2 separate regions of the Homo sapiens genome follow, and region 2 is linked to region 1. Evidence: fine-mapped expression QTL. Tissue or cell type: whole blood. Region 1 holds a variant in brackets; the other region holds the start of a gene. Each region is shown on its reference strand, or each on the opposite one.

The links. PIP is the estimated chance that this variant, and not a neighbour inherited with it, causes the effect. A credible set is the group of variants that fine-mapping cannot tell apart.
Region 2: HEMGN starts here. The variant in region 1 is the best candidate, but not a certain one, in a credible set for the expression of HEMGN in whole blood (TOPMed, PIP 0.61).

Annotation. Positions count from the first base shown.
Region 1 is chr2:64,630,388-64,634,789 of GRCh38, reverse strand. It overlaps SERTAD2 (SERTA domain containing 2), which reads left to right. Exons shown (of 2, transcript NM_014755.3): 2 at 1-3,169. Among named protein-coding and RNA genes, the nearest start is that of SERTAD2-AS1, 4.3 kb to the left of the region's middle. The variant TTTGAAG/G (reference allele first, on the strand shown) is at 1,889.
Region 2 is chr9:97,935,955-97,940,356 of GRCh38, reverse strand. HEMGN (hemogen) reads left to right here and starts at 2,185. Exons shown (of 4, transcript NM_197978.3): 1 at 2,185-2,299; 2 at 4,093-4,186. The coding sequence starts at 2,221.

The sequences.
Region 1 (4,402 bases):
TTTACATCCGAACAAAATTTTACATCCGAAAAGCAACCAACTTCTTCATGGAACTCAGCCCTGTTGCAATGCTTAGGGCCCTTAAAGAAGAAAATCTCCCCAGAAGGCATCCATCATGTTGCTTAATTGTCTTCTGCAGCTTCCTTTCCCTAGAGCTTTCCCTGTGTTGCTAAGAGCTGAAAATGGCATCTTCGTGATCACCACAGTGAGCTTGGCTCGCCTCGGCCGGCCCGGGATGCACTCTTACAACATGTGTGACTCTTGAACCTGGAGTTCATCACATTACGTCACAGCTTCCCATCTGGTTGCTTTCCTGAGTCAGCTACTTCACACTTGTCAAGGCTGTTTTACCCCAAAACTCAGACAGGACTTTCTATGCATGTTTTCCCTCCTCCCCCCAATTCCCCCCCCCATCACCTTATCTCCCAGGACACACTTGAGAAGTAGCTTTTTATTCCTAGTGGTGTACATTTAATTTTAAAAAGGTTGCAATGTATCATGCTTGTTGCCGAAACTGTTTATGGCCTTCTTGTTTCAGTTTTTTCTTTTCTTCCAATGGTACTTTAGCTGTTGAGTGCAGGTTACAACCTATATTGTTATGCAGATGGCTTCTTTAGGAATAACTTTTATATTTATTTAAAAATTTTTAAATTATGGGATGTTTTGTTGTTGTTGTTGTCTTTGTTGTTGGTCATTTGTCAATATTCAGTCACCAATTCTGCTCACTTCTTGCCATGGATAAAATTGGGTCTTTCTGGCTAATTAAAAAAGACAACTTTATAAAATGGCACTTTAAGCAAGCCATAGTTAGTTTTATTTTTGTAATGCACATGGCAAAGCAAAGACGTTTGTGATGAAGGAACTGCTCATCTAAGCAAAAGATTTGAGTATGATATGATAAAGGCTTTCTACATTCTAATTTACTTTTTCCCCCCACTTGAATGTGTTTTAAAGGCTAATTATCAGCTCAGTAGAGCAGTGAGAAACTGATCAAATTGCACTTGTTCTCCTACAAGCAACCTCCACGCAGACACCTCGTACTGCTACAGGTGTGTCATTTCCTTTAATAGGACCAGGGACCATGTAACTGAGGTGAGGGTTGTAGTAGATGCTTCCAGTGTCAGTATGCCTGTTAATTTTAAGAGCTTCCCTTTCTTGCAGAGAACAAGTCTGCCCAGATTCCATGCTTTCTATAACTGGAGGACCTGGCAAACCTGCCGCATGCTGCACACATCTACCTACGTACACATATACAATAGTATTGATGATTCTGAACAATAACAGGGTAAAACAGTTGGTTTGCCATTGTTAAAAACTGATTTACAGTAACTTACAACAACTGTACTTTTGTTGGATTAGCAAATCATGTGTTTAAACAAATCCCATATGTTGGGCAACAGTTCAAATAAGCACGGAGAAGTGTTGCCCAAACTTGGTTCTCTGACTCTTATGTATTTGTAAGGCTGGGCTTCAAAATCAAAACAAAAACCCCAAAAACAGCAGGCAAATGCTTTTTAACTCTGACACCGTTGCCATAAATCCCTGATACTCAAAGTCTAACAAGAAAGACATGGAAAATTAGCAGCCCATTTTCAGAAAGATCAAAATGATCTAGGGTTCTAATTGCTTTTGCATCCTATTCTTACAAAGTGATGTCCCAACAGGGAACAGTAGGAGCTGGAGTGGGATCTCCAAGTCCCAGTTTGAGTGTGGGATGTGCTTCCAGCAGTGCCTTCCCTTTATGAAAGACATCACATGGCATCCAGGGCCAGGCAGGCAGCTTGAGGTGCCTTTACGAGAAAACCGAGCTGGGGCTGGGAGAGGACAGTTATTGACACTGATGTGCAATGAAGTGACAAGATGAGAGCAGAATCGTAAGAGCTTTGAA[TTTGAAG/G]TGAGTTTTTTTCCCCCCATAAGTTATTTATTCCTTTTTTCTGTGTAAATATATTTATTTTACTGTGGAGCGCTAACATCTGGATCGTAACATGTGCAGAATGTATGGTAGGAATGTATTCTCTTGTAGGAATGTAAATCTGTATTAAAAGGGGGTCCAAGCCAGGCCCCCAGGTCTTCTCATTGTATGCACAGTCCGCATTCATTTTTACTCTTCTCTAATATGGGTCTATTTGAAATATGCAAAAGGTATGAGGAATGTTTTAATACCTCCAAATTTTTAAGAAAAGCATCAAAGGGTTGATATTTTTTAAAGTTTTTTTAGTAGCACTTTCTCTGGATGACAGAAGGAGCAACCACATGGGCACCCTTGTTCATACCAAAGGGTGAGCAGTGGCCAGAGCCTCCTCTGCACCTCTCGAGTGTCTTTACCAATTGAGCTTTTTATCGCCATAGCCCCTTGGAGTGCCCCAGCTGCCCTGAGGTCAATCAAGGAAAATTTCTTAATGAAATAAGCTCCAAAGAGCCAAAGTATCAACTTACAGATCGTTTTTAAAGCTTAAATTTATGAACCACCTTTGTGGTAAACAATGAATTATGAATACCGCAGGGCAGCCTTCTTAAATGACAAATGTAAAAAAAAAAAAAAAAAAGACTCTACTTCGTGCAGCAATTGCTACTCTATACGAATTGTCTTAATTTGAAAACCTTGCTGTTACAAATTGGACCTTTATACATTTTCTGAAAACAATGAAAAGAGTATATTTAACCTTTTCTGGCTGTAAATGGTTACCTTCCTGTAACTGCCCCGCACCTGGAGGCATGGAGTTGTGTGCATCCTGCTTATGTACAATTGTTTTCAGTGTTTCTAAGAATGAGTCTGAATGGTTCTTGAAAATTAGCCAGGATCAAATGCTATTGCAGACAAAGCCAATAAAAAGTTGGACTTCTTTTGGGGATAACAAGTTTTGGAAGAGAAATGCAGGCCATATGTGCGCATGACCGAGATTTTGAAAAAAGATGTACATAGTGACATGTTTGGTGCATGGTTTTTGAGGAGGGCTTTTGTCAAAAAGGAGGTATAACCTTTCCCCCACAGACCTGAGAGCTGTGCCTTTTCTATGCAATATTACAGACGTTACATCGGAACCCAGATGGCTGTATTCACATGTAGGTTTGGGCTGTAATCTAAACAATTGGACAGATTAAATGTACATGGAAATGAGCAGTCTTACTTTTGTAGTTTTATATTATACAATAAACAGTTAAAAGATGAGAGAGGCATGCTTGCAGTTTTCTTTTGATGGGAGCTCAATCAGCTTATTTGTGACAGTTTGCTCACATTAAGCAAAGTCCAGCAAGAGAGAGCAGCAGGGGGGCCCCGAAGGAGTGCGTGCTGTTGGTCTTCCTGAACCGTCCTGGTCTCAGGAACCACCCTTCTCTCCTGGTTCTCCTCCTGCTTCTTGGACCCTTCTGGACCTCCTTTTTCTCACATCTGTGCCCCAGCTCTCTTTAAAACATTGTCTTTTCCAGGGTTTGGCCCATGACTGCACTTCACTGAGCCTCCATTCCTGCTGCCTCTTGCTTTCCCAAGGTGATCTAATCCACTCAGGACTCTCAAAACTGGTCTCCAGCCCCTGCCTCTCTCCTGAGCTCCAGACTTCAGTATCTACCAAGATTTGCTCCCTCACTCTCAGCGCGTCTAAAGAGCTCTCGTTTCCCCTGGGGGCTGATTCTTCTGTGGGCTCGTTGTCTTCAGCACTCTGCTCCACGCTTGGCTCAGTTGCCCACCCTTGCACCCTGTTCCGCAGTCCCAGCCATGTCATTCCCTCTGCCACCACCTCTCCATCCTCACCATAGCGTCCCCAGCTCGGACCCTTTCTCTCTCCTTGCCTCTGACCGCCGTACCTGTTTCCTGACTAGTCTTCCTGCTGTGATCGTCTCTCTACCATCCCTGATGCTGGAGTTGACATTCTAAAATGCCAGTGGGTCACGTGGTTGTTGCACGTCCTCCAGGTGTACCCACTGATTATACCATCTGGACCCTGCCCCTGCTGTCTTCCAGTGGGGAGTGGGGGAGACCCTGTGCAACCTCCTTGGCCACTGGGCTGTCTTGGATGGAGTCATGGGATCTGGCCTCACCTGGCCTAGGCAGTTTTTTATTTTGGTGTGGTTGGGCCACCACACCACTGGCAAGGGAAAAGGGATGGATGTGTGAGACCTGGGAAGTGAAGGTTCAGCTCAATCAGCAGTGGAATGTGAGGTGGGGTGTGAAGTGCTGGGGAGGTGTTAGGGGCTGAATTGTTTCCCCCAAAAAGGTAGGTTTCAGTACCTCAGAATGTGACTTTAATTTGGAAGTGGGGTCTTTATAGAGGTAATTAGGTTAAAATGAGGTTATTAGTGTGGGCCCTAATTCAGTGGCTAATGTCCTTATAAAAAGATATTTGAACACATACATGCATACATGGAGAAGGCCATGTGACAGTGAAGGCAGAGACTGGGGCGGTGG
Region 2 (4,402 bases), not on the chromosome of region 1:
CATGGGGCAGGGGTGGAATTGACTTAGGTAGGTTGTAGCAGGATATAAAGAATCTATTATTTCCTTGCAATACAGATGTACACACTTTCTCCTCTATGAGCCTACAGGGCACAGGGCTCAGGAACTGCACCATCCGTCTCTACAGCACAAGAGGGGGCATTAAGTAAAATTTGCTGAATTGTTGAACTGGGTGTTACAAGCTCTTAGTAAGGACAATTTTATTCAAGAAGTACCTCTGCATCCACTGAAGGTGTCCCAGAGGGATTCTATAATGTTATTTTATTAAACTATCCTAATGTAAGAAACAACCTAACTAATAAGAATTAAAACATATCAACTAAAGGGACCAATATTTAAAAAAACACTATTTTGTAATTTTTAAAGTTAGTTTGAGTTATTTAAACCCCATATCTGAAAATCCAAAATTTTCAAGCAAATAATGCCTGCTGTTCCGTGCAGGATTCCTTTGAGCAGGGGCTCCCTGAAGTTACCTGAACTTTTAGATACAGAGATTTACTTAAGAGAAGGACTGGGGAACTGAGAGAGGTAAAGCTAAATATTAGGGTTTAGTAATTAAAAACCAAGTTAAATTTTAGTGGCAGATACTTGGGTGTTTGTTATATCATTCTCGATACCCTTTAGTGTGTTTGACAGCTTGTTTCTCTAATATATTTACATGATACACACATTTTTATACCCAGGAAAGATCAAGCACACAAAATGATGACCCATCTCCTAATCTGTAAGAGATGCTGCTGGCAATAAGTAATAAAATACTAAGTATAGGTAACTCTCCTCCTCGGTTCTCAGTTTCTTTGTATACAAAATAGGCAGGGACTAGATGATTTTGGGCTCTTCCAGTTCTAATGCCTTAAGACTCCATGGAAGTAGTGGGTATCTATTCACATTACAAAGGTCTTTCTTTATAAAGAATCCTCTTCAGATTCTCTCTTTAGTGCATTTAAACTATGACTTGCTTTACCAAAATCTGGTTACTGTATTTTTATTGGTAGCTAACATTTACTGACCAAGTTCAATATGCTAGGCACACATAAAATGCCTCATATGGATTACTGGACTTAATCATCCCAGTAACTTTCTGAGGTAGATACCAATATTGTCCCCATGTTATAGATAGGTAAATTGACTCCAAGGCTATCTAACCTGCCTCAGGTCACTGAATTAGGGAATGTCAACACTGGAATTCAAACTCACTTCAATTCAATCTGAATCCAGAACACATATATTAATCCTGCATCTCCCAGACTGGCTTCCTGTATCAGGAGGTGCTCAGGGTTTCTTCTTTAGTTGAACCATAGTAGTCTGTGGCTCCTTGTCTTCACAAATGGGGTTACTGCTTGGAGATAGGATGGTTCCTTTGATTATTTCAACTTAATTTCTGGGATATAATGTGGTGATATTTTCATTAAGAAGTAATTTTTCACCTTCCCCTATATGAGTAACAATGGATTTCACTAGTTATCTTGAGTCACTTGCGAATGATTTGGTGAGCCAAAAAGGGTACAAAATTGCTGTGAAATTCTAATTTGGTTCTTTATGTCTATTTCTTAACTAAGTCTAACAGCATACACAGCAAAACTGTACATTATTTTGCAACAGATTAAGGTGAAAAAAGCTACATACAGGAAACCATGTAAGATTAATATATATCACACTTTCTAGAAACTTTTATATCTATTATTTTCACTTTCACAAGAACCGTATGAAGTAGGCAAGACAGGAATTATTTACCCATTTTGCAAATGCAGAGAGTCATAGAAAAGGGAGGTGACTTGCCCTGGGCCACTGAGCTGGTTGGGGCCTAGATTGTGTTCTTTCTACACTAGGCTACCTCCATCTGTAAAAAGGAACATCGGATCCAGACACTTCCTGGCAGATAGAACCAAAAGAGTGCTGACTAGAGGCTGTGCCATGCCAGGCTGTGGTCAGAGAGTTTCCCTGTATAAATAGCAACCTATGCTAGGGGTTGCTAGCACCAGCCATTTCCCCTACTCACACCTGTGCAGTGTGATAAAGATAGTAGAATTAGCCTGCAGTTGTGGTCCAACCAGATAAAACTTTTAGGCGGGAAGTCAAGTGACAGGCAAACTTGTGTGTGTGGTTTTTTTTTTTAAGTGTTAGATGTTTTTGATATTTTAAAAAAGCATCTAGGCTGCTTGTGGAAGTCAGACCAAAATAGCAGGAAGGTATTGCAGCAAGATGGATTTGGGAAAGGACCAATCTCATTTGAAGCACCATCAGACACCTGACCCTCATCAAGAAGAGAACCATTCTCCAGGTAATGAAAAATACCTTAAGAGCTGGTGGCTGTTGAGAAGAATTCGGGGTATGATAATTTTCTCTTTTCAATGGATCTGGCCAAAAAAAAAAAAAAAGGAAATAAATGAAAGCTAATGAGACTAGTTCATCCAATAATTTCATTCGATGGCTGTGGTAAAACAAGTGGATTCATACATTTCTATGGCAGCACAAATTTGGTCTAACGTTTGGAAAGAGATCTGGCAATAAGTGGTGAGAGCTATAATACTGCTTATTCTTTTGACTCACTAATCTCAGTCCTTGGATCTATCCTAAAGCAACATTTCTCAAAATGTTTTGTGGAAACTTAGGCCTTGAGATACCTTAAGACATTGTTTTAAATTTTTTTTGCTACATGGATCTCTTTGGCATTCTGATGAACCCAGAGACTCCTTCTTTGAATAAAATTTTTAAAGGCATAAAATTAAATATATAAGACTAGAAAGGGAATAATTACATTAAGATACAAATATCAAAATAAAAAATTATTATATAGTAATATATATGATTATTTATAGATTACAATATCCAGTGGTGGGTCTAATAATAGTATCAAGTCAAATAAGTCATAGCCAGTAGGTGATATTTTAAGGTATCTGCAACAACTATAATGTGATAAAAAAATATGTGATTTCTTTATAGGGACCAAGTCATATGCTGAGGGGGAGGGAGAGCATCAGGAAGAATAGATAATAGATGCTGGGCTTAATACCTAGGTGATGGGATGATCTGCACAGCAAACCACCATGGCACATGTATACCTATGTAACAAACCTGCATATCCTGCACATGAACCCCTGAACTTAAAATAAAAGTTGAAAAAAAAGTCATATACTGCCAAAACTACTGTGGTTTGTTATCTACATTCATAATTGAAGGAACTGTCAATTTTAATTAGAGGTTGGTAAAAATAAAGATATAATTTTTCCTATTAAGAACCCTTATCCCAAGAACAAGAGGCACCATGGTTCAAGGGGCATGCTCTATTCTTTAGAGGTCCCAGTGTGGATTTGTATCACTTCACAGGCTCTAGGAAGCTCTGCATCAAAGACTCATCAATTTTTCTCAACCTTAGACAGCAGCAGAAACTTTTTTGATCAAACCCTTAATTTTCCAAAGAACTTGAAAAAACACCGTTCTAAGGAAAAAATACCAAAGAAAAGCTATATGCAATGAATATGCTTATTATAATTTGATATACAAGGCAAAGATAACTAGCAACAATCTAAATGCTCAATCCAAGAGGAATGATTGGGTAAATGAGAGTACATCAACTAGACTATGTATCACATTGTCATTAAAATTATCATTATGAAGACTACGTCATGGAAAATAGTTCTAATATAACGCTAGCTTAATAAAAAGATTAAAATTGTGGTATGCTATTCTTACAACTTTGTGTAATATAAAGACTGGATAGAAGTGAGGAATAAAATGAAAACAAGTTATCATGTTAAAGACAGCAAAATATGGCTACTTTTTTCATTATTTGTACAATATATAAAATTACTTTGAAGAAATTAATAGGTTGGTAGCACACTTATGTACAAATACTATGTAGGAGTAGGTCTCTGACCTTTTCATTCAAAAACATTTGCTGAATGTCTGCTTCCAGGCTTTCTCTGGAGATACAAGGATAAATGAGATGCAGTCCTTGTCCTCAAAAAGCTAGGAGAAAAACCTAGAACAGAGACTCTGCCACTTGGCTACAGGACTTTTGCTGATAGACACCACAGTTCATCACTTTTTCTAATCACTTTCATTTTATTACAGAAGTCATTGGAACCTGGAGTTTGAGAAACAGAGAACTACTTAGAAAAAGAAAAGCTGAAGTGCATGAAAAGGAAACATCACAATGGCTATTTGGGTATGGTAGCATCACAAGGGAAAGGGAACTAATATATTTATTGAGGATGTTATGCATAAAGTAGTGCTGTGCACTTTACACACTGTATTTTATCTTTCCAACAATCCTGTAAATCAGACATGGTTATCCCTATTTTACAGAAAAACAGAGACTAAGCCTCCAGTGAGTTACACCTCTTGCCTAAAGTCACACACACAGCTGGTAAAATGGTGGGAA